Linked DNA regions of Homo sapiens: region 2 is linked to region 1. The links come from fine-mapping of genetic effects on gene expression. A gene starts in region 1. The other region holds a variant in brackets. All regions are shown on one strand. Distances are between the middles of the regions.

What was found. PIP is the estimated chance that this variant, and not a neighbour inherited with it, causes the effect. A credible set is the group of variants that fine-mapping cannot tell apart.
Region 2: its variant is the best candidate, but not a certain one, in a credible set for the expression of ING1 in blood mononuclear cells (TOPMed, PIP 0.78).

What each region holds. Positions count from the first base shown.
Region 1 is chr13:110,711,979-110,714,881 of GRCh38, reverse strand. It overlaps ING1 (inhibitor of growth family member 1), which reads right to left and starts at 1,182. Exons shown (of 2, transcript NM_198219.3): 1 at 597-1,182. The coding sequence starts at 732. It also overlaps a transcript of CARS2 not described here. RefSeq lists silencers at 1-255, 346-635, 796-985, 996-1,345, 2,344-2,512 and 1 more and enhancers at 2,016-2,065, 2,666-2,755.
Region 2 is chr13:110,660,131-110,663,033 of GRCh38, reverse strand. All of the region lies in intron 9 of CARS2 (cysteinyl-tRNA synthetase 2, mitochondrial), which reads left to right. Among named protein-coding and RNA genes, the nearest start is that of CARS2, 45 kb to the left of the region's middle. The variant G/A (reference allele first, on the strand shown) is at 1,707.

The sequences.
Region 1 (2,903 bases):
GTGTCCAGCTCCAAGTGAGGGCCGGAGGGGGCTGGGCGGGGGCGGCCGACCTACCCCGAGCGGAGTACTACCCGGTACTTTATGTAACACTCAGATTCGGGACTGAGTGGGGGGCGACGAAGAAGGGCCAGAGGAACGGCGTTGCCCGGGACCGAGGCACCGGGTCCGCGGGAACCCCGGCCCACAGCCGCCCTCCTCCTGCAGCCCCGTCTCGGCGCCCTATAGCCCCAGGCGCCGGCACATCCCTCCATCTCGCGCCGTAATCTGCACCCCCTCCTAGAGGACGCGGCTTGGACCCGCCGCCCCCTCCCCCGCAGCACCCGCCTCATCACTTCACTACAAAGAGCGCTTTGGTCGCGCAGCCTTGCAGCGAGACCTCTCGCGCCTCCTTCCTCCTCCGTGTCCCGGGCTTTGCACACAAGGACCTTGGCGAATCAAAGGCGCTCCAGACCTTTTGTTCCTGCCCCTGCCGAGGGCCGCCGCTGCGGAGCCGGCCGCTTCCTCCGGTCCACGGCAGGACCGGCCCGGCTCCGCGGCGCGCCCGGACCCGCCGGGAAGGAGGCGGCCGCCCCCGCCCATCCATCACCCGGCCGTACCTTGGTATTTCGCGTCGATCTCCCGCATCAGCGAGACATTTCTCTGCAAGTCGAAAGGCAGGGACTCGATGGAGTCCAGGTAGTCCTCCACATAGTTCACCAGGTGGAGCTGCTCCCCGTTGGCAGGACTCAACATGGTTCACCCCGGAGGTCCCCGGCGACTCGGCGCGGCTTTCCGCTTCCTCCACCCCCCGCCCCCCTCAAAAAATAGCACTGCAAAATGCAAAGCCCTCGCTCTCCCGGCGCCCCCCCGCCGGCTCCTGCTTCGGCCCGGCGGCTACATCTGCCGAGCCCGTCCGCCGCCTCCGGGTCCGCGGGGACCCCAGCGCCTGAGGGCGCGGGCCGCGGTGGCGGTGGCTCCCGGGCGCACGCCCCGGCCGGCGGCGCAGGCCCCCTCTCAGGCGGCGGGGCTGGCGCCGGGGGCCGCGCGTACGAGCGCGCACACACCGGCGGGAGAGGGCCCAGCGCCGCGGCCGCCGCTGCCCACTCGCCCACTGGGCTGGGTAGAAGAGAGGAGCGGAGCGGGCAGCGGGAAGGGGCGCGCTCCGCTGGCCGCCGAGCCGCACTTGTCCAACGTGGAAAACCCAAATACCAGTTTCAAACACTTGGGAAACATTCAGCCCCGCTGCGCAGCGCGCATGCGCCCCGGCCCCCTCCCCCGGCAACGGCCCCGCCCCCCGCCGCATTCACGCCCCTCACCGTCCCAGGCCCTGGGGGCTGCGGGCTCCAGGCCGGCCCTCGCGGGGGCGTGGCCTTGCCTGTCACTTTTTCCAGAGGCGAGGGTCGCGGAGGGGACAGCGTCAGGGCCGCTGGGGTGTGGACGGCGGGCGAGGCGCAAACTTTACTAGGAGTTTTTGGCACTTGGAGGCAGAGCCTGTTGGGCGGCACAGCACGCCCGCTGGGAAACGCAGGGGAGCGGCCTGCTTCGCTGAAAACCCGACCAGGACCTAACGGGCCGCGGGACAGAAACCTCCGAGACCATGGTACACAGCAACTACCGCAACTCGCTCCTCAGCCCCTGACTCTTCGTCCCCGCCCCACAGAGCAGTATAAGTAGGGCCCGAAACAGAACTGGCAACCGCAGTAGCCAATCTACTTGCCAACATCACTTTGACAGCCCAATCACGATGAAGAGGAGGCGGGGAGACCGTGAGTAATGCCCCCCGGACTCTTACTACTAGAAACCCAAGTCCTCCGGGAGGCGGAAGGAAGGGGAGGGCCGGGCACGGGCGGAAGTGGCGGCGCATGCGCACTGGCACCCTCTCGGTGTCCTTTGAGCTGCGGCCGCAGAGTGCGCGGGAGACCTACCCATTCCGCGGCCGGACCACCACTCCCAGCAGCCTAGGCGGCTCCCGCGCCTGCGCCATCCGTCACCGCCCTCCCTTTGTGTCGTCTCCCGGTACTCAGTTTGGAACGGCTTGGAGACAAAGGGGCCTGAGAGGGAAGCTGCTTCCTAGTGCCGAGCCCCAGAAGAGGTGGATAGGCCCGAGGGGCGCCTTCCCTAGGCCTTATCTCTTCCCGCCCTGTGTCATGGACACCGTTCTCGGAGGCCGCTCCCCACACTTGGAAAGGCCGCCCACAGTATGCAGACACCCGGTCGGCCGGCGTCCTGAGGCCATTCAGCTCCCCGGACCGCCCTCCCCCGCGTCGCCCCTCTACCCTCCCAAAGCTCCCGGATTTTGGGCTTTCTGAGAAGCCTGGACGCCACGCGAGCCCGTTGCCTAGGCGACCGGCCCCGCGCGCCGGCCCCCCCCCTTCCGGCCAAAGGGCCCGCCCCTCCTGGGCGTGGCCTCGTGCCTTTGTGCACTTCCCGCCTGGCTCTCTGGTTCCGGGGCGGCCTCGGCTTCGGCCTCCGCCCCGCTGCGGCCGCCGCGGGTCCCCTCCGGGGTGGCCCCGAGAGCTGTGTTCGCCACGCTTGGCTGCCTGCTTTTCTCTGATTTTCTTCCGCCTTGGACCCTGCTCTATTTGCATTGTCTTTTTTTCAGCAAGTCGGAGAACGGTGCCTTGTCAGTTTTCACCTTTCTCACTGGACTTTCTCTTTTCCGGAGAGCCGGGTTGGTGGTGCTGCCTGTGTATTCCACGAACTAAGCCCTGTCCCCAGCCCTTGCAGTGTTTCTGTATCAACTCCACGCCAGCGCGGTTCTCCATTTTTCTTAGCCTCTTAATTAGGACAGGGTCGGATTTCAGCTTTTATCCACCGGGTTTATCCTGTTGCAAAGCAGAGTACACAGTTTTAGACACAAAATAATTGCAGTTGAAATGGATACACATTCTGGTGGTAAGATTTGGAAACGTGGTATTTGATGG
Region 2 (2,903 bases), 52 kb after region 1:
TCCTTAACCAACCTGAAAAATGGCATCATGCTATGCTGCTGACACATGGAATGTGAATTTTCGTGTGAATGGAAAACAGGCACACCCACGGAGGGCTCTGGCTGACATAGTTTGAACTCCTCCTTTGTCTTCTGGCCTGTCTTTAAAGCCAGATTTAATTTAATTGCAAAATAAATGGAGAAGAATAGTATCCAGATCTCACCGCCTAAATAGCAAACCAGTGAAAGCTGTACCCATCAGATTTAGGATACACCAACAGGGACTGCTCCTCACAAAATAATTTGTATATAGTTTCCTTAAGTAGAATTTTTCCGTTTTATCCTAGGCAAAATTTCAAACCGATAGAAAAGTTGAAAGAAACATCACTATGGCTCCACCCAGATTCAGTAGTTGTGATGATTTTGCTGTATTTGCTGTGTAGGATCTTTTTCGCCTACCCAGCTTAGATTCTCCCACCGGGGAGCCTCAATTAAATTGGTAAATTAGACTCTGGCCAAAGACAGATTAGCAAGAGAAAAACAAAGAGAAATGTGTTAGAGCGTGCACGGCACACGTGGAGGTGGAGCACAGGGTTGCATGACACAGAGGAAGGTTGGAGCCCGGGGCCACGGGGTTGCATGACGCAGAGGGGGTCCAAACCCAGCCACGGGGTTGCATGGTATGCAGTGGGGTCGGAGCCTGGCCATGGGGTTGCATGACGCAGAAGGGGGTCCGAAGCCGGCCATGGGGTTGCATGACGCAGAGGGGGGTCGGAGCCCGGCCACGGGGTTGCATGACGCAGAGAGAGGTCCGAACCCGGCCGTGGGGTTGCATGACGCAGAGGGGGTCCGAACCCGACCATGGGGTTGCATGGTGCAGAGTGGGTCGGAGCCCGGCCACTGCAGGGACCTTGCTTTATTGAGCTTCACTTGACCGCACTTCGCAGATGCTGTGTCTTTACAGATTGAAGGTTTGTGGCAGCCCTGCACCAAGCAAATCTGTTGGCACAATTTTGCCAACAGCATGTTCTCACTTCCTTTCTGTGTGTCATGTTTGGGTAATTCTTGCAATATTTCAAAGTTTCTCATTATTAAATCTGTTATGGTGATCTGTGGTCAGTGATCTCTGATGTTACTGTTGTAATTGTTTTCGGGCTCCATGAACCACATCCATGGAAGACAGAACTTAGTATGTGTTGTGCATGTTCTGACTGCTCCACCAACTGTCCATTCCTTTAAATCTGCCCCTCCTTGGACTCCCCTATTCCCTGAGACACAACATTATTGAAATTAGGCCAGTTACTAGCCCTACAGTGGCCTCTAAGTGTTCAAGTGAAAGGAAGAGTCACACATCTCTCACTTTCCATCAAAAGCTAGAAATGCTTAAGCTTAATGAGGAGGGTATGTCAAAAGCTGAGACAGGCTGAAAGCTAAGCCTCTTGCACCAAATATTTAGCTAAGTTGTGAATGCAAAGGAAAAGTTCTTGAAGGAAATCAAAAGTGCTATTCCAGCGAACACACGAATGATTAGCAAGCAAAACAACCTTATTGCTGATAATGGAGAAAGTTTGAGTGGTCTGGATAGAGAAGATCAAACCAGCCACAACATTCCTGTAAGCCACAGCCTAATCTGGAACAAGGCCCTAACTTTCTTCAGTTCTATGAAGGCTGAGAGAGATGAGAAAGCTGCAAAGAAAAGTTGGAAGCTAGCAGGGGTTGGTTTGTGAG[G/A]TTGAAGGAAAGAAGACCTAGCTAAAATAAGTGATGAAGGTGGCCACACTAAACAGCAGATCTTTCGAATGTAGATGAAATTGCCTTCTATTGGAAGAAGATGCTGTCTAGGACTTTTGTAGCTAGAAAGAAGTCAATGGCTGGCTTCAGAGCTTCAAAGGACAGGCTGACTATTGTTAGGGGCTAATGTAGCTGGTGACTTTAAGTTGAAACCAGCGCTCATTGACAATTCAAAAAATCCTAGGGCCCTTGAGAATTACCCTAAATCGGCTGGGTGCAGTGGCTCACGTTTGTAATCCCAGCACTTTGGGAGGCCCAGGTGGGCAGATCATGAGGTCAGGAGTTCGAGACCAGCCTGGTCAACACAGTGAAACCCTATCTCTACTAAAAATACAAAAATTAGCTGGGCGTGGTGGTGGACACCTGTAATCTCAGCTACTTGGGAGGCTGAGGCAGGAGAATCACTTGAACCTGGGAGGCGGAGGTTGCAGTGAGCTGAGATTGTGCCACTGCACTCCAGCCTGGGCGACAGCTAGACTCCATCTCAAAAAAAAAAAAAAAAAAGAATTATGCTAAGTGTACTCTCCCTGTGCTGTATACGTGGAATATCAAAGCGTGTATGACAGCACATCCATTTACAGCATGGTTTACTGAATATTTTAAGCCCACTGTTGAGACCTACTGCTCAGAAAAAAGGATTCCTTTCCAAATATTGACAGTGCACCTGGTCATCCAGGAGCTTTGATGGAGACATACAATGAGAGTAATATTGTTTTTATGCTGCTAACAGAACATTCTGCAGCCCATTGATCAAGGAATAATTTCAACTTTTAAGTCTTATTATTTAAGAAAAATATTTCATAAGGCTATAGCTGCCATAGATAGTGATTCCTCTGATGGAGCTGGGCAAAGTAAATTGGAAACCTTCTGGAAAGGATTCACCATTCTAGATGCCAGTAAGAACATGTATGATTGATGGGAATAGGTCAAAATATTAACATTAACAGGAGTTTGAAAGAAGTTAAGTCCAACTCTCATGGTTGACTTTGAGGGGTTCAGGACATCATTGGAGGAAGTCACTGCATATATGGTGGGAATAGCAAGAGAACTATTGGAATTGGAAATGGATCCTGGAGATGTGACTGAACTGCTGCAACCTCATGATAAAAGTTGAACAAACGAGGAGTTGCTTCTTAT